Homo sapiens: one gene and its partners. The protein of the gene in region 1 interacts with the protein of each later gene in a pairwise test. Each region holds a gene or a part of one and is shown in the gene's direction. Other genes may lie near its edges.

What was found.
Region 2: the proteins of PNLIPRP1 (region 1) and NDUFAF1 interact in binary tests that used the Homo sapiens proteins (3 or more experiments, as listed by UniProt).
Region 3: the proteins of PNLIPRP1 (region 1) and MCFD2 interact in binary tests that used the Homo sapiens proteins (3 or more experiments, as listed by UniProt).
Region 4: the proteins of PNLIPRP1 (region 1) and SLC10A6 interact in binary tests that used the Homo sapiens proteins (3 or more experiments, as listed by UniProt).

What each region holds. Positions count from the first base shown.
Region 1 is NC_000010.11:116,587,100-116,593,969, forward strand, and holds the start of PNLIPRP1 (inactive pancreatic lipase-related protein 1 precursor), read left to right. Parts: upstream 1-3,859; 5' UTR 3,860-3,896; intron 3,897-3,913; exon of another isoform or gene 3,914-3,940; intron 3,941-4,030; coding exon 4,031-4,079; intron 4,080-4,671; coding exon 4,672-4,826; intron 4,827-5,316; coding exon 5,317-5,442; intron 5,443-6,870. UniProt on the Homo sapiens protein: May function as inhibitor of dietary triglyceride digestion. Lacks detectable lipase activity towards triglycerides, diglycerides, phosphatidylcholine, galactolipids or cholesterol esters (in vitro).
Region 2 is NC_000015.10:41,386,839-41,392,513, reverse strand, and holds the end of NDUFAF1 (complex I intermediate-associated protein 30, mitochondrial precursor), read left to right. Parts: intron 1-3,991; coding exon 3,992-4,066; intron 4,067-4,920; coding exon 4,921-5,070; 3' UTR 5,071-5,161; downstream 5,162-5,675. UniProt on the Homo sapiens protein: As part of the MCIA complex, involved in the assembly of the mitochondrial complex I.
Region 3 is NC_000002.12:46,905,807-46,912,837, reverse strand, and holds part of MCFD2 (multiple coagulation factor deficiency protein 2 isoform A precursor), read left to right. Parts: intron 1-1,964; exon of another isoform or gene 1,965-2,058; intron 2,059-3,660; 5' UTR 3,661-3,666; coding exon 3,667-3,815; intron 3,816-4,159; exon of another isoform or gene 4,160-4,868; coding exon 4,869-5,028; exon of another isoform or gene 5,029-5,954; intron 5,955-7,031. UniProt on the Homo sapiens protein: The MCFD2-LMAN1 complex forms a specific cargo receptor for the ER-to-Golgi transport of selected proteins. Plays a role in the secretion of coagulation factors.
Region 4 is NC_000004.12:86,846,360-86,853,472, reverse strand, and holds the start of SLC10A6 (sodium-dependent organic anion transporter), read left to right. Parts: upstream 1-4,088; 5' UTR 4,089-4,357; coding exon 4,358-4,734; intron 4,735-7,113. UniProt on the Homo sapiens protein: Transports sulfoconjugated steroid hormones from the extracellular compartment into the cytosol in a sodium-dependent manner without hydrolysis.

The sequences.
Region 1 (6,870 bases):
ACATTAGATTTCTAAGAATTTATTAGTTTGTGGAACATGAAACAACATATTTATACAAGTATAACTAAAAGAAGGTTAAATATAATTTCTTATTTACAATGTTTCCCATATAATTTAATGTATTTAATAAGCCTAATTGGTTTAATATGTCTCTTCCTTTGAGAAGCTCCAGGGACCCTCTAGTATGTCCCAAAGTCATTCTGAGATCAAAAGACTTAAATTAGAATTTCAGAAGTTTGTAAGAAATGTCAAAAGACCTAAAACATTTTCTTAAATAGGATCTTGGTCATTATGAAACAACTAAAGGTAAGTACAGAAAAGTTACACAGTTTTTAAAAGCTTAGCTCTTTTAATATTAAGAAGACAGTTTGTTATGGCTTCTGGGCAGTATTCAGAGAAGAGAATTGTAGGAGACAAGACTAGGATGGTCCTTGAGTAAGCATTCATGTCTTCCACAAACATGTGCTGAGCACCTACCATATGTGAGGCACTCCGCTAGGCATTGGAGACACAGAAGTGAGCAAAAAAAAGACCCAGTTCCTGGTCTCCGAAGTCCATGGCAGCTGGATGATGAGGACTTCCTCATGGACAAGCAGAGGCCCCCAAAAGTGGCTTCAGCCAAGTTTTGGGTGTAAATCAACCGTTTTGATACTTGTATGGAGAGCAAGTTCTGATTATTTCCCTATCTAATCGTCATTCAAGTTTGCAGAACTTCACAGCACCCAGATTCTGAAGGCTGGGAGTTGTTCTGGAAATGCCAAGGACCCCTACAGAGGAGCGCAGACTTTTGGACCTAATGCACTCCAACTGGCACCAGGGTTTGTCTGGCCTCGGTGAGATCTACCAGCGGTCATCAAGGACTTTGAGAACTCTAGGTGAAACTCAGAAGCTGAGTTCACTTCCCACAGACAGGTATCTCTAATAAAAGAAAAAGAAATCAATAGCTGACTAATGATGAGGCAAGTTCTTGTACCCTACTTCCATTACAACACACAGAGGGAGAGTCTGCCAGTTCATGGGATATTTAGAAACATAGTTCAATGTAATACAGTCTGATTCTAGGCTCTGGAAGAGATTTAAAAACCAGCTTTCTCAAAACAAACATTTCTCTAAAATTAAGGGACTCCGAAAACCCACCTTGAACCCAACTCTATCATTCCCCCAGAATTAAAATTGAAGGAGCAAACAAGGACAGAGCTGATTGCCTGAAGGAAAGCAGATATTTGGGCTTCATCTACACATGTATGTATAACAGATAATGGCTGGTGACTTCATTCTTTACTTTTGTGACCTTCAATGAGTCATACGTCTTGAAGACCTGAGAGCTGTCTGGTGGAAATGAAGTCATGGTTTCAAAAAGAGATCCACAGATTTGTATGCCTATGAATCCTTACTTGTGACCCTGAAACTGGATGTAAGTTCAATCAAAATATTCCAGTTGTTGGCCAGACGCAGTGGCTCACGCCTGTAATCCCAGCACTTTAGGAGGCCGAGGCGGGCGGATCACTAGGTCAGGAGATCGAGACCATCCTGGCTAACACGGTGAAACCCCGTCTCTACTAAAAATACAAAAAAATAGCTGGGCGTGGTGGCGGGCACCTGTAGTCCCAGCTACCTGGGAGGCTGAGACAGGAGAATGGCATAAACCCAGGAGGTGGAGCTTGCAGTGAGCCGAGATCGCGCCACTGCACTCCAGCCTGGGTGACAGAGCAAGACTCCATCTCAAAAAAAAAAAAAAAAAAAAAAAGAAAAGAAAAGAAAAAAAGAAATTCCAGTTGTTATTGTTGTTTGAAAGACTCACCCAGAAATCTTTCCATCTGGTGTGGAATGAATAAATTGTCTGACAGCCTGTGAAGGAGAAGCAGCTTGAACCTCAGCCTTGCTAGAGGCTTAGTCTAATTAAATCCCCTAGAGCATTTAAACAGGAGCCAGTGCATTGGAGCACAGTGTATATTGACTGATGCACGGAGTTTCCTCATTGTCTTAGGAAAGGGTATGCTCGAACCTGGTGCTGTGTGCTAAAGAATAGTAACAGTGAGTGCAACAGGTGCTGCTGTCTCTGAATTCCAGGCCTGGCTTGGGTTCCTGTATTGGTTAGCTACTGCTGCATAACAAACAATCACCAATTCAGTGGCTTAAAGCACTGAATTAAAGCATTTATCCATGCTCAAAAATCTGAGTTTGCTGGGTGGTTCTTCTGGTCTTGGCTGGATTTACTCATGCCTCTGTGGTTACAGTGGGTTGAGTAGGCAGTGCCACTAATCTTGGCTGGGTCCTTTACATACTTGGGGGACAGCTGGCTTTGAGTTGTTCAAAGATGTTGCTGTTACCACACTTAATGACCAAATCAAGTCATACCATGTCTAGCTCAGATTCAAGAGGTGGAGAAATAAACTCCACTTCTTGATGGAAGGAGCTGCAAGATCACATTGCAAAGGGTGTGTGTACAGGAGGAAGGGATGAAGAACTCTGACCACCTTCCCAGTCCATCACCAAGTCTAGCCTGTTTCTCCATCCTGGGGATGCCTGGAAGTAGGGAGGAAACAGGTCAAGGGCCAAGAGGGTTTTCACATTTTCTCTTTTGACTCATTCTGTGTATCCCTCTTGTTCTACATGGTTGACATCCAGTGAAGCTTGCTGATTACTAGCTCAACACAACTGAATATTCAACAACTCTGTACAGCCTGAATTCAAATCTTACCTCATCACTCGTTAGTCGTGTGACTTTTTAGGCAATTTACTTATCTCTCTGTGCCTCAGTTCCCACATTTATAAAGAGAGGCTTATGGGATTGTTTTAAAACTTATTAGGTAATACACGTAAGGTGCTTGGAATTCTGACTGTACTTGGTAAGGCTTCGTAACAGTTGGCAGCTATTCTTTATGATTCCAGGAGTCCTTTCCATTTTCTTAAGAGGAAGGCCCTTAGGCCTGCACCCTTGTGTTTTGGTTATTTAAGATTGAGAACTTTGACACCGAGGCATATTTAACTTGGCAAGGGGAGGCACTCATGGTGTTTGCTTTGTGAAGGCTTATCTGCCTTGCTGTGTGAACTGGCTGGGCTGTTCACAGATGCAGAGGTCTCTGGTTATATCATGATGGCTTTACAGGGTCCAAGAATTATCTGCAGGTGTGCAACCTTCAGAGGACCTGGGGAAACTCAACAGACATGACATGGGCCTCTGGGGGCTCCTGAACCCAACTATTGAGATTACAGTGGCATAATGCAATCATTGCTATTGTTTTAAAGTGTTGTCTTTTGGATTGGTTCATTGCATAGCAATATATAACTGGAATAGGCAGTTAATGGGAGGATTGTGGTCAGAAGCTACTGTGAGGGCTGTTGAATTTTTCTCCAAAGCTCAGATGCCCAGTATTCCTAGTCTTCGAAAGAGAGAGAGGAAGATTGAGAGAGAGAGAGAGAGAGAGAGAGAGAGAAGAAGTTTTCTTAATCAGAGATTTCTCTTTACTTTCAACTAATTGCAGGTATTTTCATCTATTCTAAATGAGAAATACTATCCTCTATCATTAGGGTTTGCTGCTGTGTCCCTATTGAGACTTGTAAACTATTTGGTGATGAAATAGAAAACTGAAAAGTGAGGGCCCATTCAGCTCACAAGTACATGCATAGTTACATAGGTACAAGGTTGGTGACTTCACTCCCTGCTTTAACCAAGCATTCTGTCATATTTCCAGACTTGTGGGAAGACTTGACAGCTATTATTAATCTTGTTTTGTGTATTTGGGCAGATTAAAGTATTAAGTGCGCACAGCATGGGCTATAATCACCTGCTGTTTTCTTGAAGTAGTGTCCAAATGATAAGGCTGGAATATATATTTTTAGAAAGGGCTGGACACTCGATCCGGTGGGAGGGAACATCTGGAACATTAGACAGGGTAAGCCACCTTTGCAACTCCTTTCCCCCTGCTGTGACGTACAGGTGAGGTAAACAGTACTGAAGTCCAGGGCGTCGGTGCTCACTGCTCTGGCAATGCCCGGTGAGACTGAATTATGTTTAAATTTATTGTAGATGCTGATCTTCTGGACAATCACACTTTTCCTGCTGGGAGCAGCCAAAGGTAAGAAACACCACTCCTGCCCCGTAGGAAGGGCTTAAACTTAAGCTCTCAGCCCTGGCCAGAGAAAGCTTTAACTGTGGCAGGGCTCCCAGCAGCTCCAGGGTACCAGAGAGAAGATGTGGGCTGACACTCTGCCTGGGAGAGTAGGCTGGGCAGTTTAAGGGAGACCTGTTTCTGGGGATCCCCCCAGTGGCCTACCTTCATGCTCGGGGTGCCCAAGGCCAGACATTTCTAGGTAAAGCATGAAACATCTGCCTGAGTTAACATATTGACTTATCAATGCCCATGATCACATTGGTCAAATAAATGTATCAGAAGAGCTAGGAATGGGACTTAGAACTTTCCAGTTTTGAGGGTAGTTCTAAACAAAGGCTCCAGTGGTGTCCCTGTGGGATTCAATGGGACTGATACTACTACCGGCCAGTAGTAGGTGGGCACTGGGGTCAAGAAGAGAGTGGGAGGGGTTGCAGTAGGTTCATCCATTGTCTTCAGACTGTCCCTGAATAGAAGAGTGACCAGGCCCGAACAGCAGTGACACCCCAGAGCACACCTTGAGAGCAAATCCTTGAGCAGATTCAACCTTTCTCTGTAGGAAAAGAAGTTTGCTATGAGGACCTCGGGTGCTTTTCTGACACTGAGCCCTGGGGCGGGACAGCAATCAGGCCCCTGAAAATTCTCCCCTGGAGCCCTGAGAAGATCGGCACCCGCTTCCTGCTGTACACCAATGAAAACCCAAACAACTTTCAAGTGAGACCTCTGTCATTTAAATGTCACTGTAACTGGCACGGGGCTATGCCCACCCTGCAGACCATGAATACCTTATCTCTGTGCCCTCTTCCTCCACCATGCCCCACCCCATCCCTCAAGCTGCCCCCCAGACCTAGCTAGACCTAGACAGAGCAGGTCTTTAGTAATGTTGGCTTGAATGAATGAATGGTTCACATTTGCCAGAACCTCTAGCTACTGTGTGATTCTGGTCTGGGGCAAACAGCTTACTGTCTAACAAAAACCACAGGGAAGGTAAAACCTCAAACCACAATCCAGGCCTAGTGGAAGCAGTGATTACTCACCTGGAGAGATGGGGCAAGAAAAGGGAGATCAGGGTGGGCTTCATGGAAGAAGTGGCTTTTTGCTAAGCTTTGAAAAGTAGAGGCATTGGCGCAGGCGGAGATGAGGAAGGAAAAAGGCCTGTGAGGCTGGGCTGCGAAAACATGAAGCACTTCTGCGTCTGTCACAGATTCTCCTCCTCTCTGATCCATCAACAATTGAGGCATCAAATTTTCAAATGGACAGAAAGACCCGGTTCATCATCCATGGCTTCATAGACAAAGGAGATGAGAGCTGGGTGACAGACATGTGCAAGGTAGGAGCCAGCTCTGATCCCTGTGGCCAGCTGAGGCCAACACTTCTGCTAACATCTCTGCATCACTTTATGCACTCAAGAAATCTTTACATATTAGGTAACTTTATGCAATTAAAATGCTTCTCTTCACAAAAATTAAAATGCCTTTCCATGTTTCCGCACTACATCTGCACACTGAAGCAACCACATTTGCTGTTAGAAAAGTACTCCTACTACCTAATTTCTGGTTAAACCAAGGCCTGATGTTTTCTGCTTCCATTTGTAGTGAGGGTACTTTGTATCCTATAAGCGAGGGACTATAGGGGTTTCTTTGTTCAAATTTTTCCCACATCCCTGAGAGGCTGACATGTGTTGCTGTGACCACTTAATTGATCCCAGCACTTTGGGAGGCCAAGGTGGATGGATCACCTGAGGTCAGGAGTTCGAGACCAGCCTGGCGAACATGGTGAAACCCTATCTCTACTAATGATACAAAAATCAGCCTGTTGTGGTGGCAGGCTCTTGTAGTCCCAGCTACTTGGGAGGCTGAGGCAGGAAAATTGCTTGAACCCAGGAGGCAAAGGTTGCAATGAGCCAATATTGTGCCACTACACTCCAGCCTGGGCAACAGAGTGAGACTCCATCTCAAAAAAAAAAAAAAAAGAAAACTAAGATTAAGTTACTACAATGACAGAATAGAAAGTGTCACCTACATGTAATATAGGTCAGAAGGAGAGCAACAGAAGAATACACACATGTGCACACACACACATACATACATGGACATGTGTGCAACTTGTGCATACACACACAAACACACACACATGTGCGTGCAATATACCACAATATACCATCATCCTTTCTATTTATGTGGAGACTAGTTCAATCGATTTTTCTGTCACCTAAGAATTTACCTACCCCAGGAGCCTGCCTTCCACACATACATTAATAACACCAACCAGTAATGTCAAAAGGAAAAATTACAAACCCAGAAAATTAAAGTCATTCTGCACTTGCCCTTGGTTTAACAGGCATTTCACTCTTGGCACCTTTCCTGTCCTATCATTAATAAGCATCTTATTGATACAGTTTATACTCCAAATTCTCCAGGCTTGTGAAAGTTTCCTCAGGATTGCTTGAAAATGAAAGTCCTGGCCAGGTGCGCAGTGGCTCATGCCTGTAATCCCAGCACTTTGAGAGGCCGAGGCGGGTGGATCACCCGAGGTCAGGAGTTCAAGACCAGCGTAGCCAACATGGTGAAACCCTGTCTCTACTAAAAGTACAAAAATTAGCCAGGTGTGGTCGCAGGCGCCTGTAGTCCTAGCTACTCAGGAGGCTGAGGCAGGAGAATTGCTTAAATTCGGAGGCAGAGGTTGCAGTGAGCTGAGATCGCGCCACTGCACTCCAGCCTGGGCGACAGAATGAGGCTGTCTCAAAAAAAAAAAAAAA
Region 2 (5,675 bases), on another chromosome or scaffold:
CATGGTTCAGTTAACTTCACCTGGTCCCTCCCTTGACACATGGGGATTACTACAATTCAAGATGAGATTTTGGGTGGGGAGACAGCCAAACCATATCAGGACCCTTCAGTGGTTTCCCATTACAATTCGAATAAAGTCCAGGCTGGGCTAGGTGGCTCATGCTTTTAATCCCAGCACTTTGGGAGGCTGAGATGGGCAGATCACTTGAGGTCAGGAGTTTGAGACCAGCCTGGTCTACATGGTGAAATCTTGTGTCTACTAAAAATACAAAAAATTAGCAGCAGGTGGTGGCACACGCCTGTAGTCCCAGCTCCTCAGGAGGCTGAGGCAGGAGAATCGCTTGAACCTGAGAAGTGGAAGTTGCAGTGAGCCAAGATCGCGCCACTGTACTCCACCCTGGGTGACAGAGTAAGACTCCATCTCAAGAAAAAAAAAAAAAAAAAAAAAGAATAAAGTCCAAACTCCTGCACATGGCCTATGGGCCTACAATATCGGACCCCTGTCTTCATCTTCCATCTCTCCTCCTGTCTTCATCTTCCATCTCTCCTCCTACCTCCTTCCTCCACACCAGCCCCTTTTCTGTCAGATTTAACAACCTCATTTCCATCTCAGAGCTTTGCACTTAGTGTTGCTCTGCTGTAATGCTCTGCCCCCATGTCTTCACCTGCTTTCTCTTTCCTGTCATTCACCTCTCGGCTCAAAAGTTGCCTCAGAGAGGCCTTTCCTGATTCCTGTAACTAAAGTTGGACCCTCTAATCCAGTTATTTCAACACCACCATCCTATAACTTTCTTCATAGAACTTATCACTAACTAAAATTACTTTGTTCATTCATTCATCTGTTTATTGTCACTCTACTGCCTTCCCTGGAACATAAATTATATAAATTCTTTTTTTTTTTTTTTTTAAGATGGAGTCTCACTCTTACTGCCCAGGCTGGAGTGCAGTGGTGTGATTCCAGCTTACGGCAACCTTTGCCTTCCAGGTTCAAGAGATCCTCCTGCTGGGACTACAGGCGTGTACCACAACGCCCGGCTAATTTTTGTATTTTTAGGAGAGATGGGGTTTCATTCACCAAGTTGGCCAGGCTGGTTTCGAACTCCTGACATCAAGTGATCCACCCGACTCGCCTCCCAAGGTATTGGGATTATAGGCGTTTGAGCCACCACACCTGGCCCTAAATTCTGTAAATTCTGTGAGAGCAGAGATCTTGCTTATATTGTTCCTACCAGTTTCCCCTGTACCTAGAATTTTGTCCTAGTGCCTAGCACAAAATAAGCACTCAATACATACATATATATGTAGTAATACAGATATATAACACAAATTATATATACTTGTATTTAAGTAATATATATATAATGAATTATTATACAAAATAACTACTTCATTATAAAAACAATTTGGGAAGTACAGAAAAAAATCTTGTACTACCACTATCCAGTGATAAAATACTATTTTTATTTTATTTTATTTTTATTTTTGTAAGACAGAGTCTCGCACTGTCGCCCAGGCTGGACTGCAGTGGCGGGATCTCGGCTCACTGCAAGCTCTGCCTTCCAGGTTCACACCATTCTGCCTCAGCCTCCCGAGTAGCTGGGACTGCAGGTGCCCACCACCACGCCCAGCTAATTTTTTGTATTTTTAGTAGAGACAGGGTTTCACCGTGTTAGCCAGGATGGTCTTGAACTCCTGGCCTCATGATCCGCCCACCTCGGCCTCCCAAAGTGCTGGGATTACAGGCATGAGCCACCATACCCAGCAGATAAAATACTATTTTTTTTTTTTTTGAGACAGAGTCTGGCTCTGTTGCCCATGCTGGAGTGCAGTGGCACGATCTCTGCTCACTGCAAGCTCCGCCTCCCGGGTTCACGCCATTCTCCTGCCTCAGCCTCCTGAGTAGCTGGGACTACAGGCACCTGCCACTACACCTGGCTAATTTTTTGTATTTTTAGTAGAGACGGGGTTTCGCCGTGTTAGCCAGAATGGTCTTGATCTCCTGACCTCGTGATCCGCCTGCCTTGGCCTCCCAAAGTGCTGGGATTACAGGCGTGAGCCACCGCGCCTGGCACAAAAATACTATTTTTAATATGTATCTTCTACACTTTTCTAGTCACACTTTTCCCTTCCAGTGGTGTTTTATAACATATATACAGTATTTTCACTGAACTATTGTTTACAACTTTCTCTTCAAATATATTTCTACATCATTTTTAATGTCTGCATGATATTATATAAGTAGACAACAATTTTGGCTGGGTCCAGTGGCTCACATCTGTAATCCTAGCACTTTGGGAGGCTAAGGCAGTGAATCATTTGAAGCTAGGAGTCTAAGACAAGCCTGAGCAACATGGCAAAACCCTGTCTCTACAAAAATACAAAAATTAGCCCAGTGTGGTGGCATGTGCCTTTAGTCCCACCTACTCAGGAGGCTGAGGTGGGAGGATTGCTTGAGCCTGGGAGGTCAAGGCTGCAGTGAGCTGAGATCACCCTACTGCATGCACTTCAGCCTGGGTGACAGAGTAAGACCCTGTCTCAAAAAAAAAAATTTTTTTTTCTTAACTTGTTCTTCATTATGTACATGTAGATTTAGATTGTTTTCAGAGTTTTCTACTGTCGGAACAAACTCTGAGGTAAACATCCTTAACTATTTTCATAGGCTATATTCCTAGAGATAAAATTACTGGAATAACTATTAATATGTATAATTCATTTTTATTTATGTTCATTAAAATTTATTTACTTATTTGAGACAGGGTCTCTCTTCTGTTGTCCATGCTGGAGTGCAGCATGGGCTCGCTGTAGCCCCAACCTCCCAGCCTCAGGTGATCCTCCCACCTTAGCCTCCTGAATAGCCAGGACTACAAGGATGCACCACCATGGCTGGATAAGTTTTTTGTTTTTTTACTAGAGTCTTGGTTTCACCGTGTTTCCCAGGCTGGTCTTGAACTCCTGGGCTCAGTTGATCCTATTGTGTTGGCCTCCCAAAGTGCTGGGATTACAGGCATGCACAACCAGGCCCAGCCATTTTCTTCCTTTGTTAAACTCAAAATATAAATAAAATTAGCATACTCTGTACCTGTTTTTTGTGTTTTTAAAATTTAGGAATATATCCTGGAGAGCTTCTGTATAATTATTTAGGCAGGGTGTGGTGGTTCATACCTGTAGGCCAAGGTTGGCAGATTACTTGAGCTCAGGAGTTTAAGACCAGCCTGGCTAACATGGTGAAACACCGTCTCTACCAAAAAAAAAAAAAAAAAAAAAATTAGCCGGGTGTGGTGGTGTGCGCCTATAGTCCCAGCTACTCAGGAAGCTGAGGTGGGAGAATCGCTTGAACCTGGGAGGTGGAAGTTGCAGTGAGCCAAGATGGCACCACTGCACTCCAGCCTGGGTAACAGAGTGAGACCCTATCTCAAAACAAAACACAAACAATTAAAGCCAGATATAGTTTTAAAAGATCGTGCTTAATAATAAGTAAATTACATAGAGAAGAAATATGAAAATAAAGTTGATGAATAAAAAGGCACACTTGAAAGTTCAAGAGTAGAAGGAATAGGACATTTCTTTTAGTTCAGTTTCTAATGTAGGAAGGAAGGGAAACGTTAAAATTCTTTTTTCTTTTTTTTCTGAGATAGAATCTAGCTCTATCGCCCAGGCTGAAGTGCAGTGGTGTGATCTTGGCTTACTGCAACCTCTACCTCCCGGGTTCAGGCAACAAAGTGAGACCCCATTCTCCACAGAAAGAAAAAAAAAAAAAAGCTGTGTTTAGGATACTAGTCTTTTTTCCATAAATGTTACAAATATTTTTTTCATAGTTAACCCTTTATCGTTTGGCCTGAGTTATATCTTTGATCCAAATGGCTAGCCATTTGTCATAATACATATATGACATAATTTTAGAATAAATGTAAACTCATTTTATCGTTACAATTACATGCAGATGCCTCAATTGCTTACATTTCAGTTATGAAGTAAATGGTTTCTTCTTTCAGATTCCTTTTTCCAAATTTTTCTTCTCTAATCGAGGAAGAATCCGGGATGTTCAGCATGAGCTTCCGCTTGATAAGGTAACATATTCCTGTATTTTTCACTCAGAACTGTATCATTTTTAATGAATCGGAACTCTGGGGAGACTGAGTTCATTTGAGAAGGCTGGCAGATGAATATTTCTTCTCAGGGCCACTGCTCTTATACCCAGCCAGAGGCTGACTTAGACCTCTCCTATGAACCATACCCCCATCCTGAAGGAATTTTAGAAGGATCATTTTTTAGCATGCCTACATTTTACTTTAGCTATTTTCCCCCCTCCCTTCTCTCCTAATTTAGCTTTAAAATAAGAGTTTATGAACGCTTCAAGGAACTCCATTAGGCATTCATGTCGTCCTTACTAGTCTTTTTGTTTTTTGACATGGAGTCTTGCTTTGTCACTCAGGCTGGAGTGCAGTGGCATGATCTCGGCTCACTGCAACCTCTACCTCCCGGGTTCAAGCATTTCTCCTGCCTCAGTCTCCTGAGTAGCTGGAATTACAGGTGCCTGCCACCACACTTGGCTAATCTTTGTATTCTTAGTAGAGACGAGGTTTTACCATATTGGGCAGGCTGGTTTTTAACTGGACCTTGTGATCTGCCCACCTTGGCCTCCCAGTGTTGGGATTACAGGCCTGAGCCACGACGCCCGGCCGTCCTTCCTAGTCTTAAGTGGCACTACCTAATGAGGAGAGGGGAGGAAGTTGAATGAGGAAAGAAAAGCAGTCTTGTATTTCCTCTTACAGTATGCTATGGGAGAATTAGTAGTATTTGCTAAGGGCTGATAGCATTAAAACCCAGTTATAATCATCACCTGATGGGATTTTAAACTCCTGGAATAATCTCAGTACGTCACTGTATGAGATTTTAATCAATTTCTGTATTTTAAATTTAGATCTCTTCTATAGGATTCACCTTGGCTGATAAAGTGGATGGTCCATTCTTCCTGGAGATAGATTTTATTGGCGTGTTTACTGATCCAGCTCATACAGAAGAATTTGCCTATGAAAATTCTCCAGAGCTTAACCCAAGGCTTTTTAAATAAAGATCATATGGTAGTTTTGTTTTACTAATCTAAGGGTACTAGCATCTACAATGATATAGACAAAATAAAATATTTCTTTAATGGCATCCAACCAATGGCTAGTATGTATTCTCTCTCTTTTTTTTTTTTTTTTTTGAGATGGAGTTCTGCTCTGTCGCCCAGGCTGGCATGCTGGCGTGCAGTAGCGTGATCTCGGCTCACCGTAACCTTCGCCTTCTGGGTTCAAGCTATTCTCCTGCCTCAGCTTCCCGAGTAGCTGGGATTATAGGCATGCACCATCATGCCCAGCTAATTTTGTATTTTTAGTAGAGACAGGGTTTCTCCATGTTGGTCAGGCTGGTCTCGAACTCCTGACCTCAGGTGATCCGCCCGCCTTGGCCTCCCAAAGTGCTGGGATTACAGATGTGAGCCACCGCGCCTGGCTGGCTAGTATGTATTCTCTAAGACAAGTTATAATGCTGTTGCTGGCCAGGCACTGTGGCTCACGCCTGTAATCCCAGCACTTTGGGAGGCTGAGACGGGCGGATCACTTAAGGTCTGGAGTTCGAGACCAGCCTGACCAGCATGGTGAAACCTCGTCTCTACTAAAAATACCAAAGTTAGCC
Region 3 (7,031 bases), on another chromosome or scaffold:
ACACAGGCTAAGAACCAGCAGCTTCTGTTCCAGGCACTGTGCCTGATACTGGGAATGTGGATTCAGTCCAAGTCCTCTTAAAGCCCATCCAGCAAGGGGCACTGACAAGTAATCAGGCAGTTTTTCAAGAATTCATTCACACACAAGAAAACAAAAGAAAAAAAAGAATTAATTTGCAGCTGTCATCAGCTGTGGACGGGAGCCTTCTGAAGGGAAGCACTTGGGAGCCTGCAGGACGAATACCTACACCAGACTTGGAATTGAAAAGACCTCACTGGAGAAAGAGACATTTGATGTAAATGAGTCTGAAAGGCTTGGGAGGAGCTTGATTCCCTTCTCTGATCCTTCCTGTCCCAGAACTCTAAGATGTGTGGTCAGAACAAGTTGTTCTGCTATGGCCTAGGCAGTCACTGCTAGGAGTAACCTGAAACCTTGTTTTGTGGTACCAGGTACAGTGGCAGTGGCCTTGTCAGGGTCTGGACACGTTTAAAAAATTTTTTTGAGACAGTCTCACTCTCTTGCCCAGGCTGGAGTGCAGTGGTGTGATCTTGGCTCACTGCAATCTCTGCCTCCCGGGTTCAAGCAATTCTTGTGCCTCAGCCTCCCAAATAGCTGGGATTACAGGTGCACGCCACCATGCCCAGCAAATTTTTTTTTGTATTTTTAGTAGAGACGCATTTTGCCACATTGGCCAGGCTGGTCTCAAACTCCTGACCTCAAGTGATCCACTTGCCTCGGCCTCCCGAAGTGTTGGGATCATAGATGTGAGCCACTGTCCCTGGCCAAGGTCTGGGCACTTTTATTTGGTAAAATTGGAAGTGTAGTTTCTGACTGTTTCTGAATTATTTTGTGGAGATAAGAATTAACCGGAAACTCCTTTTGTATCCGATCCATATAGTATTGGGACAAAATTATGGGATAGATTACATTGAATACATATTCATAAAAAATGGTAGCAGATCTCGGCTCACTGCAGGCTCCACCTCCGGGTTCATGCCATTCTCCTGCCGCAGCCTCCCAAGTAGCTGGGACTACAGGTGCCCGCCACCACGCCTGGCTAATTTTTATTTTTGTATTTTTAGTAGAAACGGGATTTCACCGTGTTAGCCAGGGTGGTCTCGATCTCCTGACCTCGTGATCTGCCCGCCTCGGCCTCCCAAAGTGCTGGGATTACAGGCACGAGCCACCATGCCGGCTGAAAATCACAATTCTAATCTCATGTCTCAAGATAATCTTTGTTATTAGTTTGTGTAGGAAATACACATTTTTATTTTACAAAAGTGTATTATTCTTTATTGCTTTTTTGCAGCCTGTTCTTTTTCATTCAATATATATTGAGCATTCTTTCCTATTAAGTATGACATATTGCTTTTTTTTTTTTTTAAACTACAGATATAAAAGGTCTGAGGTGGCCGGGCACGGTGGCTCATGCCTGTAACCCCAGCACTTTGGGAGGCCGAGGCGGGTGGATCACCTGAGGTCTGGAGTTCGAGATCAGCCTGGCCAAGATGGTGAAACCCTGTCTCTACTAAAAACACAAAAATTAGCTGGACGTGGTGACATGCACCTGTAATCCCAGCTACTCGGGAGGCTGAGGCAGGAGAATTGCTTGAACCTGGGAAGCGGAGGTTGCAGTGAGCCAAGATTGCGCCACTGCACTCCAGCCTGGCGAAAGAACAAGACTCTGTCTCAAAAAAATAAAAATTAAAAAATAAAAGGTCTGAGACAGATTGCATTTTGATGTCACTGTTTAGAAGTAGACTAGATTCTAGGTGCTTTTTAGCACCCTGGAAGTTTCTTCCTTTTTTTGGTGGTGGAGGACAGGGTCTCACTCTGTTACCCAGGCTGGAGTGTACTTCAGCCTTGAACTCCTGGGCTCAAGCAATCTTCCTATCTCAGCCTCCTGAGTGGCTGGGACTATAGGGGTGCACTGCTACGCTCAGCTAATTTTTTATTTTTTGTAGAGATGGGGGTCTGACTGTGTTGTCTAGGCTGATCTCAAACTCCTGGCCTCAAGTGATCCTCCTGCCTCAGCCTCCCAAAGTGCTGGGATTACAGGTATGAACCACCATGCCTGGCCTATCCTGGAAGTTAGACATCCCAGTGACTATTGTCCCCTTTAAGGAGGGGGCCATGGGAAGCAATACTGGTAATGGGAAAAACGGATTTGGGAAATTTTTCTAAGTGTTGTAGGGTGGCATACTCACACTTTCAGGGTTCTGCCCTGAGAGCCTTTTAGGATGGGTAAGAGGGACTATAACACCTCTACCTCTCAGCCCCAGGCACAAAGACAGCTACAGCTTCTGAGCTGAGCCCTGTGTGTAGCATGTAAAGGGGATGACCAGTGCCTTATGGTTTGTCTTTACCACTGCTGGTTTGGGGCTGTGGACTACAATTGACCTGTTAGAAATCCCTGGCCTTGTTATCTAGCAGAATCTGTTTTGCCTGTTGGGAAGTGAGTGTTCGGTCAGGTCTTTTGTTTTTGTATGTAGGTCACCTGGCTGTCCTTCACCTTCCTTTTTGAGGTCAGTCTGTCAGCCCTAGGACAGACCAAGACTTTCCATTGAATCAACAATTATTAAAGGCCTGCCTGACCCTTGGCGGGTAATACTGGTGGGGTTAAAGTTCTCCCTGCCCTCCAAGAGCTTGCTCTGTAGCTGACTGTCATCTTATTGACCACAATTCCAAGTGTGGCCAAACCCTGGGAGTTCCTGATGGCATCCTGATTTCTCTGTAACTTTTCTTTCCAGTGCCCGCTCACTGTAGTTACTTGCCACTGTTACCACCCAGGAGGTACAGAACCTTGTCCGCTGCCGCAGACCTTGATCTGACCCGCCTTACCACTCCCTTGGCTACCATGCTCCTGCCTCTAGTCTTGCTTTTGCCACTTCATGCCTTCCCCACTGTGCTGCCAGATGAGTCATTCTGAAACCAAGCTCTGATCTCACCTCCCATTCATGAATTGTAAGTGACTCTCCTGTCTTTCTCTGCAGGAGATGTCAAGCCCTGGCCTAGTGTGCAAAGCCCTGTCCAGTACAGCCTGTCTAGGCCTTGGAGCCACCTCTGTCCTGTCTGCTTCCTACCCTCTAGGCTGCAGCCCAGCTGAACTACTTGTAGTTTCTTTCCCGCTTGTGGGCACCTGCCACTCTGCTCCCACCATTCCTGTGGTCCTTCAGTCCCTGCATATCTGTCCAGGCCCAGCTGAAGTGTCACCAGCTCTATCAGCCTTCTCTGATTTTCCTCCACTCGGAGGAGATTTCTTCCCCTGAACTCCTAGAGGGTTTTCGCTTTCTCTGATAATCTGATATAACTTGCTGGCTGCCTTTCCTGGTGCTCTTGATAGAAAATATTTCTTTCAGGGGACCATAACTTCTGGGAGGCAAGAATAATCTTCCAGTCCCTTCAAGCTTTCACGTGTTGCTTGGCACTCTGCAGGCACTTCAGGAAACCTCGTGAGCCTTCCCCTGCCATTTGAGTGACTTGGAGTGCCCAGGGTCATCCCACAGTCTCAAAGCAGAGCTGGCATTGGGCCGTGTTTGACAAGCTCTCTTCCTAACCTTACTGCTTCATCAGGTTTCCCAGGATCATACCATGTCAAGCCCTGAACGAAACCTTTGCTCTGATGCTCTGCCTTCCTCTTCTGTGTTTCCCATCTCACAGATATTGATGACCATGAGATCCCTGCTCAGAACCCCCTTCCTGTGTGGCCTGCTCTGGGCCTTTTGTGCCCCAGGCGCCAGGGCTGAGGAGCCTGCAGCCAGCTTCTCCCAACCCGGCAGCATGGGCCTGGATAAGAACACAGTGCACGACCAAGAGTACGTATTCAGCCCGGGCTGTGGTCCAGTGGCCTCCCCATCATCTGCAGCTGAGCCAGCGGCAAGGGCATGCTCAGTCCTCCTTTCCTTCTTCCTGTTTCTATGGCTCCTTGACATTCTTCAAGGATGATTCTTATTCCTTATTGCCACCTATAAGTCAGGTATTCTTTTTTCATCATTGTATCACAGGTGGAAGATCTTTAGGCCCAAATGGGGCACATTACTTGTCTGAATCCGGTCTCTCCTTTTTTTCACCACAGACAGACACACACACATACAAATAGACACACAGGTACACATACACAGTCATAGTAGCAGAATCCAGAAAATAGCTAAGGTTTCTTGACTATAACAAGACCTTTTTTAAATCAACACATTCAAACATTGAATCATTTGTTGCAGCTTTTGTCTTGGGCCAGTTAGCCTCACGCATTATACTCGGTTATCCTTTGTTTTTAAGGCTGGGTGCAGTGGCTCACACCTGTAATCCCAGTGCTTTGGGAGGCTGAGGCAGGTGGATTACTTGAGCCCAGGAATTCGAGACCAGCCTAGGCAATATAGGGAAAACCTGTCTCTACTAAAAAATTGCAAAAAATTAGCTGGATGTGGCAGTACATGCCTATGGTCCCAGCTACTTGGGGGGCTGAAGTGGGAGAATCAACTGAGCTTGGGAAGTTGAGGCTACAATGAGCCAAGATCACGCTCCTGCACTCCAGCCTGGGTGGCAGAGTGAGACCCTGTCTCAAAAAAAAAAAAAAGTTTTAAAGGACATATTTTTAAATTGATGGCCTGAAAATGTTATAACAAAATTCTAATAATAAAGAGGAAAGAATACCCTAATCCTGCCAGCATAACAGATGGTCTATTTGACTTTTCCTGCTCCTCTCAAGGCCTTGTCTATCTCTGTGTAATCCTTGAGTGTGGTCTGCCACTGCTGGTGTTTGTTTTTCTGAGCTGGAGGAAGTTTAAGATCTTGAACTTTTCAGAGTCCTTAAGATTTCAGCATGATCCCAGTATCTGTCAATTGGCCTGAACCTGACTGTTGATTTTTAGGCATATCATGGAGCATCTAGAAGGTGTCATCAACAAACCAGAGGCGGAGATGTCGCCACAAGAATTGCAGCTCCATTACTTCAAAATGCATGATTATGATGGCAATAATTTGCTTGATGGCTTAGAACTCTCCACAGCCATCACTCATGTCCATAAGGAGGTAGGTCTGGCAGTGGCTTGGGGGACTGTATCACAGAAAGGCTTCCCTTTGTTAATTTGGTCCCCAGTCTTGTTGACTTGTGTTGTCCTTATGTGCCAAGAGTGCTGCTTCTCCACTGGGCATGATGGCTCGCATCTGTAATCCCAGCACTTTGGGAGGCCAAAGTGGAAGGATCACTTGAGCCAGGAGTTCAAGACCAGCCTTGGCAATATAGTGAGACCCTGTCTCTACAAAACAAACAAAACAAAAATTAAAAAATTAGCCAGGCCTGGTAGTGCATGCCCGTAGTTCTACGTACTCAGGAGGCTAAGGTGGGAGGATTGCTTGAGTCCAGGATGTCGAGGCTATAGTGAGCCATAATCATGCCACCGCACTTCAGCCTGGGCAACAGAGTGAGGCCTTGTCTCAAAAAGAGAAAAAAAGAAAAGAAAAAAAAAGGTGCTGCTGCTTCTTTCTCTTCTGTGTTCTGCCTCTTTCTGTCCAACGATCCTTCCCGCAAAGGATAACTTGCTGAGGCAGAAGTCCCAGGGCTGGGCATTTGTATCTTTAAGTGCTACAGGCATTTCTGTTACACACCAGAGTATGAGAATCAGTGCCTAAAAGACAGACCGTATTCAAACTGCAGAGCAAGGGAGAAGTTGTTTAATGGTGAATTGACACCAAGGGATTCAGGGACGTGGCAGTAATTGAGGGCTTGTGTGATACTGTATGGTGCTCCAAAGTTTCTGAAGCCCTTTCAAGTAGGTTAGAGATCTCGTTGGATCTTTGCAACATCTTGAGTAGGCAGTGGCAGGCATTGTTAATACTTCCATTTTCAGTGGTGCATGCCTGTAGTCCCAGCTACTCATGATGCTGAAGTAGGAGGATCACTTGAACCTGAGAGGTTGAGGCTGTGGCAAGCTGCGATGTTGCCACTGAATTCCAGCCTGGGCAATAGAGCGAGATCCTGTCTCAGAAAACAAAAAACAAACAAAACCCTCCCATTTTCTAGGTGAAGACACTGAAATCAAGATCTTGTGCCAGGCTAAGCACAGTGGCTCATGCCTATTATCCCAGCACTTTGGGAGGTTGAGGCAGGAGGATCGCTTGAGCCCAGGAGTTCAAGACCAACCTGGGCAGCATGGTGATATCCCGTCTCTACAAAAATTAGCTGGACATAGTGATGCTTGCCTGTAATCCCAGCTGCTGGGGTGACGGGGTGGGAGGGTAGTGGGGAGGAACACCTGAGCCTGGGAGGTCGAGGCTGCAGTGAGCTGTGATCGTGCTACTGGACTCCAGCCTGGGTGACAGAGTCAGACCCTGTCTCAAAAAAAAAAAAAAAAAAAAAAAAAAAATCCTCGTGCCTCCACATTTAATGTCATTCCCCTTCTGCCACACTGCCCTCTATAGAGAGGAAGCAAGGCAAAGTTAGCCAGGTGAGTGGGATTACATTCGCTGCTAGGAGTGCAGGTGAGGTTTGAAGGCAGCAGGGAGCATGAATGATTTTGCACAGGAGAATGGCATTGTTTAGGGAAGATCCTTGGTTGTGGGAGACAGACTGAAGGACATGAGGAGAGACTAGTGTTAGGCGGAGGAATTAGGGGTCAGCAGTCCTGGCAGATGAGGATAGTGGTGGTGACAGGAGAGGGAATGGTGAATGTGGGAGATGTGGCAAAGGAAGAACCAGCCAAGGATGTGAACAGCCTCAGCCCACTAACCCTGCTCTTGGAGCATGGGAAATACTTTCTCCTCAAAGATCATAACAGGTTCTGCTCATCGGCAGTGCCTTCTTCCTCTTGTTTTGATGCCAACTTGTTGTCCAATTCGTCACTGTTTCTATTTTATCAGGCAAATTTGTGCACAGAGCTGACCCTCAGGAGGACTGGCACTTTTCCAATTAAAGAAGAATGAGCCATAATGAAACAAATAAGCAAAAGCCTATTTTGAAGGGCCTTCTTTTAACTGGCAAATGTAATTTCTAAACTGGATTATGATAAATTGACTCAATAATACATATTCTCTCT
Region 4 (7,113 bases), on another chromosome or scaffold:
AGGGCCTTCTTGCTGCATCGTAACATGTCAGAAGGCATCACATGGCATTCCCACTATAACGAACCCATTCTTCCCCACTATAACAGCATTCATCTATCCAGAGCCCTCATGACCTAATTACCTCTTAAAGGGCCCACTTCTCAACATTGTTAAAATGACAATTAAATGTCAACATGAGTTTTGGAAGGGACACTACAACCATGGAAGATGTTGATCACTTTTTTTCAAGTATTTTGTCTTTTTTTCTGGGAAGTGATAGTGTTTTTATTGTTGAGTTAAAAAAATACTGAATTTGGCTTTTTACCTTGTGTCATGTCTGAGTAAACAGTCTACTTTTTCCATTACTGCCAATTTCCTTTATATCTGTTTTGGATTTATCTCTCATGAATTTACGTAAACTCTTTTTGAACCTATAGGATTTTTCTGTCTTTCAAGCTTCTAGAAGTTTTACCCTGTGCTGCCTTTCAGAGCGTGGGAAACAGTTCCACAGCCAAGTCTGGTTACCTTTTCTTTTGGCACTTTCCCCTCAGACTTTACATTCCCAGCCTTTTCTGTTGGTTTTCCTGAGGAGTATCTTTCACCCCAAATTCTACTTACAGAGGCTGGAAGTACATGAAATACTTCCTGTGATTTGTAGAACTGGATCTCAAAATGAAGGTGCATACATATTGAACATATGTAGATGCCTTTTGAGTGTGTGAGAATAGAAGATAATGTTAGAGATTAGGGATTAGTTTATTTCTCCATCCTTAAGCCAAATAGTGGTGTTTTACCCCTGAGCTATGCCTAAGTGGTTGCCAGTCTTTTCCGCATGGTCTTGCTCTTGACTGCTTTTCATTGCTTCCACTTCAGTGTGCTCCAGGGAAGGAAACGAGGACAGGTGGAGAATTAGATTGAGATTTAAATCCCAATGTTATAATTTACCTGCTTAATAATCTTCGACAAATAATATGGCCCCAATGGGCCTTTGTTACTTCCTAGAATAAATGTGAGGATTAAGTGGGATCTCATAATCTGCCTCACTGGCTTGGGATGTAAAGTTGGTCATGCTTTTTAAAATTTTCTAATTAATCATTTGAATCTCTACTTACCAATAAGGGCAGGAAGTCTGCGATCCTGTATTTGAAATCTTCTTTACAAATTGACCGAGAACCCTAAGTGCTTACTCTTCCCAGGAAAATCTCCTTCCCATCTCCACTGGGGAGAAACTTGGAAAAGCCTGACCAGCCCGCTGGTAGGCCCTGGGATCACTGCGGTTGTTTCTGTTGGGACCTTTTGATGCATTGGCCCCACCCAGTCCAGTGGGCCTTTATCCATTGCCACCCTGTCCCTTCCGGTCCAGTCCTGGCACACAACATGGCGGTGTCCAAGCCTGGGCTCTCAAGATGACTTCTCTTCAGGTCATATCCATATACTTAGTCATTGTGTCCTGTGGCATCTGTCCAGGGTGACTGGACACAGAGGAACCTGTCATCAGGCAAGAAACCCCTGTCTTTCCTGGTGTGTGTTAGGACCAGCTGACCTCAGTCGGAAACATCCTAATTCTTTTGAGAAATTCTGATAACACTACTTTTTTTTTTTTTTTTTTTTTTTGAGACGGAGTCTCGCTCTGTCGTGCAGGCTGCCAGGCTGAAGTTTGGTGGCATAATCTCCGCTCACTGCAAGCTCCACCTCCCTGGTTCATGCCATTCTGCCACCTCAGCCTCCTGAGTAGCTGGAATTACAGGTGCCCGCCACCACACCTGGCTAATTTTTTTGTATTTTTAGTAGAGAATGGGTTTCACCGTGTTAGCCAGGATGGTCTCGATCTCCTGACCTCGTGATCCACCTGCCTCAGCCTCCCAAAGTGCTGGGATTACAGGCATGAGACACTGCGCCCGGCCAACACTACATTTTAAAAGAGAAGTGGCCAAGGTCACCTTTCTCCCTCTCCCAGGAGGCTCCTTAAGGCTGCTATGCATATTTAGCCCCCTCCCCTCTATCAGCACTGAGTACCCAGCAATCACAAAAGTTCCCGTCACACCATTCTCATCAGAAATGGGGGTGCTTATACCATCCTTATCAGGAATGGAGGTGCTTATACAAAACTTAAATTTGTATAACTAAAAAGGGCGATTCAAGTGACTCTTCCTGGGAACAAAGAAGGTTGACACTTTGGGAGGCTGAGGCGGGCAGATCACGAGGTCAGGAGATCGAGACCATCCTGGCTAACACTGAAACCCCGTCTCTACTAAAAATACAAAAAATTAGCCAGGCATGGTGGTGGTCGCCTGTAGTCCCAGCTACTCAGAAGGCTGAGGCAGGAGAATGGCATGAACCCGGGAGGCAGAGCTTGCAGTCAGCCGAGATCGCGCCACTCCACTGCACTCCAGCCTGGGCGACAGTAGGAGACTCCATCTCAAAAAAAAAAAAAAAAAAAAAAAGAAGGTTGACTAAGGGGCTTTTGGACATTATCTAGGCAGACACCCCTGACCCCTTCTCTTGCTAAATAAGTAAATAAAGTTCTGCTTCACCAGACATAGCCACATATGTGTAAAGCACCTAGCCACCTGTATTGGTCTGTTTTTACGCTGCTAATAAAGACATACCCAAGACTGGGTAATTTATAAAGGAAAAAGGTTTAATTGACTCACAGTTCCACATGGCTGGGGAGGCCTCACAATCATGGCAGAGGGGGAAGGGGAAGCAAGACACGTTTTACATGGTGGCAGAAAAGGCAAGAGCGTGTGTAGGGGAACTCCCCTTTATCAAACCATCAGAACTTGAGAGACTTATTCACTATCATGAGAACAGCACGGGAGAAACCCGCCCCCATGATTCAATGACCTTCCACCAGGTTCTTCCCATGACACATGGGAATTATAAGAGCTATAATTCAAGATGAGATTTGGGTGCGGGGGAAACACAGCCAAACCATATCACCACCTCTGTCACCCCTGAGAAGTGCTCAGAAAATGTTAGCTGTCTCCCTCCTCCCTTCCTCCTCAGCCTGACCACACCTCTGCATCATTCAAGCTGGGAACACCTTGCCTTCCAGAGACCTTTCCCGTTCCTCAGTGTCCATTCTCTGCAGGGCTCTGCGTAAATACGCCCTGTGCTGACTGACCCCTTATACGCAACCTCCAGGGAGGCTGGATGGCCAGAGCTGCCTTCAGGGTTTGTTTGCCAAAGGCAGTTTATTCTTTCTTCAAATAGTTAGAATTTACTTCACATTTGAATCTAACTTGTATTTTTATACAGTCAGCATGTCCTGAGCATTCTGTCATGGAGAAGAATTTGCTCATCCATGAATAAACAATGCATAGCTAGTATCCCTCTTGAGACAGGTAGAGGCGTTTATGAAGTGTGCCTTGTTACTAGCCTGTGCCCCACAAATAAACTTTCTGCTGTGAGAAGGGGTGTGGCACCTGCTTTTTCAGAGGTTTAGTTTCACAGAACCATACAGTCCTTGGGTTTTGCCAGCAGTGCCTGCTTAGAATGCACAGAGGGGCCCTGGGCACTGTGGTCAGAGGCTGTCCTCAGACCCCATCTCCATTTCAGACCAAGCTCTTTACCACATCCCCTTGCAGGATTCCCAGATGTCCCTAGGAGGCCAGGGGTATGTATCTCAAAGTAGACTCTTATCTCCAAAAGCAAGTGAGAGCTCCCTTGAATTATTTTGGGTGAAGGAATTAGTTTTCACATGTTTCATGAGACATAATTAGGTGCCTAATACCATATTATTCTCACAGGTGTTTAATTATTGACTTTAGACACAAATTCTAATAGAACTAGAAGAAAAACTGAGACAAATTCTGAAGCTCCTTGAAATTATTCTTAGTCCCTCCTGACATTTCCTCCACCGGCGTTTTTTTTCTTTTTGCTCTATTTCCAGCAGACACGCTTTGCTAATGCTACAAGGTGTGGCTTTGGCTTTGTTGTTTTTTCCGGAGTTAGCTTTTCTGTCTGTGCATCCTGGCTCTTTGAAATCCCAACTGAATTTGGAGAAATTATTTCTTGGCATCCACCCTACTTTCCAGGGACACAATGTGATGCTGACGACATAGCCCGGTCACTCCACTTGACAACAAGTTTGTTTGTCTCATCTCACATACATATTCAGTGGTGAGTAAGAACAGAAGTGGAAAGCCTTACTTACCACAGTTTATTATATGTTTCATGCCTGTGATAATTACTTTTATAATGCCACTTGTGAAAAAATTGATCAGATTAGGATGAATCACCTTGCTGGCCAACAGTTATTGGAATGATTCTCCATGTGTGACTTCGTTGCACTATTACAAAATGTGGCAGGATAGACCTGCCCAGCCATTGTTGCCGATGTTCATTTGTAATGCTGCCTTAAGGAGATGAGGAGATGAGAGCCAATTGTTCCAGCAGCTCAGCCTGCCCTGCCAACAGTTCAGAGGAGGAGCTGCCAGTGGGACTGGAGGTGCATGGAAACCTGGAGCTCGTTTTCACAGTGGTGTCCACTGTGATGATGGGGCTGCTCATGTTCTCTTTGGGATGTTCCGTGGAGATCCGGAAGCTGTGGTCGCACATCAGGAGACCCTGGGGCATTGCTGTGGGACTGCTCTGCCAGTTTGGGCTCATGCCTTTTACAGCTTATCTCCTGGCCATTAGCTTTTCTCTGAAGCCAGTCCAAGCTATTGCTGTTCTCATCATGGGCTGCTGCCCGGGGGGCACCATCTCTAACATTTTCACCTTCTGGGTTGATGGAGATATGGATCTCAGGTAAGTAACCCCAGGGAAGCTCAGCAGTCTGTCTCTTATCCTGCCTAGGGGGAATAACTGAAACTCTTGTGTTAAACACTCTTCTAATCTTTTGGTAGAGATTCTAGTGGGAAATGTTACAAATATCACAGAGACTTGTTCAGCCATGGGTGGGCTTTCCTTTCAGTGCTCAAAAGTTACTTTGCTGATGATCATTTTCTTTATTGGCTACTGTTCTGAGCAGTGGGATGCGTTCTGAGCAGTGGAGGCAGGTCTGCACCTCACCCAGTGGCCCTTCCTAAGCTTGAGCTCATTCTTACCTACACTGGCCTCTTTAGCAACTCCTAGGACTTAAACCAAGAATCCCAAGAAGCTAACGATTGTGGTTTGGTAGCAGCCGTCGTGGTTGTGTCAGTGGCATAGTCAGAATGAGACTCCCGTAGCTCCAGTCAGTGATGCCTGAGCACCTACTTTAGGAAAGAAGCACTTTAGAGGACTGGATAAAGGAGCTTTAGGGGTGTCTGGTGGCCATATCCAGCTTTAAGTGCTGAGATGGCTTGTCGATTTGACTTCAGGAGCAATGCGAAGGCTCTCAGGACTAAAATTGTTCTTTCTTGTTGCTTTGCAGATCGTTAACATCATCACTAGATTCGCATTCCTTCCCTTTAAGCCAGTGACCTTATTCCCAATTATGGTGTAGATAAATACCTCTGGGAGACATTAAGCCTTGTCCCTTATTTACACTTTAATGAGGATGAATTAGTCACATGCTTTTCTGGATTACATGTTTTGATGGGGGAAAAAAAGAGCATTTGAGGAAAGAGTAGAGGGATAGCACTGGAAAAAGAGCTAAAAACAATGGTCTCTCGAGACTCTTTGCTTACTTGTGAACATGCCGTTTCACTTCCTGCCCTGGGGAAGAACTGCTTATAAATTTAAGTATTTGTTTCATGTGTATGTCATTTAGTTGAGATTCACTTTACCATGAATGAATGAATCAGAGGTAATGACTGAGCTGGGAGTTGACATCAGTGAGAGTCAGCTGCAGGTATGTGTTTCCAGTTTTCCGCTTGTGCTGAATGTTTAGCGTATGGAACATATTTCACCTATAAATTTTAATGGGCTCATACCATGCAGAATAGGAACTAACTTTCCCAAGGCAGTGTTTTTGTTTACCCACTTATGAGAGATTTGAAAAAAAAATAACTTGATGAATTTTGTGTTTTACCTTAATGGTAAAAGCCACTCATATACAAAGCCACTAATATACACTGCTTTTGTGTTTTACCTTAATGGTAAAAGCCATTAATATACATTGCTAATTCAAATTCAGTAAAGTTGATTATTTAACTGGGAAATGATAGATATTCTTTGCATGAAGTTCATAAATCAGAGATAAATTCCAGGACCTAAAAGTTTTTGGAAAGAAAAAGGAAACTAATATTTATTAAGTGCCCCATAGGCATGGGATAGATGCTTTCATGCTTATTTTCTTCTTGGGGCTCATAATAACCTTGTAAATGGCCTTTTATTGTTCTGAATTTTACAGCTGAGAAAATTGTGATTCAGATTGGTTAAGTAGCTTGCCAAATGCTACAAACCAGTATGGCAGAACTCAGATTTGAATTCTCATCTGTTTTACATCAGTCTGCAGTTTAGGCACATTTCCCCCATGGCATTTAGCAACACAACTAGATCTTCTGTTTTGAATAGCAGCATAAATCTTCAGTGTTCTCAAACACTTGTGTTCTGGGAAAGAGAACATTTATTACCTTAATCTCTTATTAGTCAATGTTGTCATAAAAACACCAATGAACAGGAAACCTATGAAAGATAAAGCTACTTTTACTTTCTTTTGCCAACTCTTATCTTTAATTCACCTTTAACTTTGTTCAAATTATTTAACCTATCTAAGCCTTATCTCATCATTGGCAAAATGGGGTTAAATTTACCTATTTCTCACAAGACTGTATATATATGTATATATATGTACACACACTCAAACACACACACACATATATAGATAATAGTTTGGGGTGGAGTTTCACTCTTGTCGCCCAGGCTGGAGTGCAATGGTGCGATCTCGGCTCGCTGCAACCTCCACCTCCTGGGTTCAAGTGATTCTCCTGCCTCAGCCTCCTGAGTAGCTGGGAATACAGGTACCCGTACCCACCACCGTGCCTGGCTAATTTTTGTATTTTTAGTAGAGATGGGGTTTCGCCATGTTGGCCAGGCTGTTCTCAAACTCCTGCCGTCAGGTGATCCTCTTGTCTCGGCCTCCCAAAGTGCTGGGATTACAGGCGTGAGCCACGGCGCCTGGCTGACACAAGACTATATTTATGGAGGAAATATATATTTGTGTGTGTGTGTGTATTCAGAGTGCCAGGTACATAGTAGTTG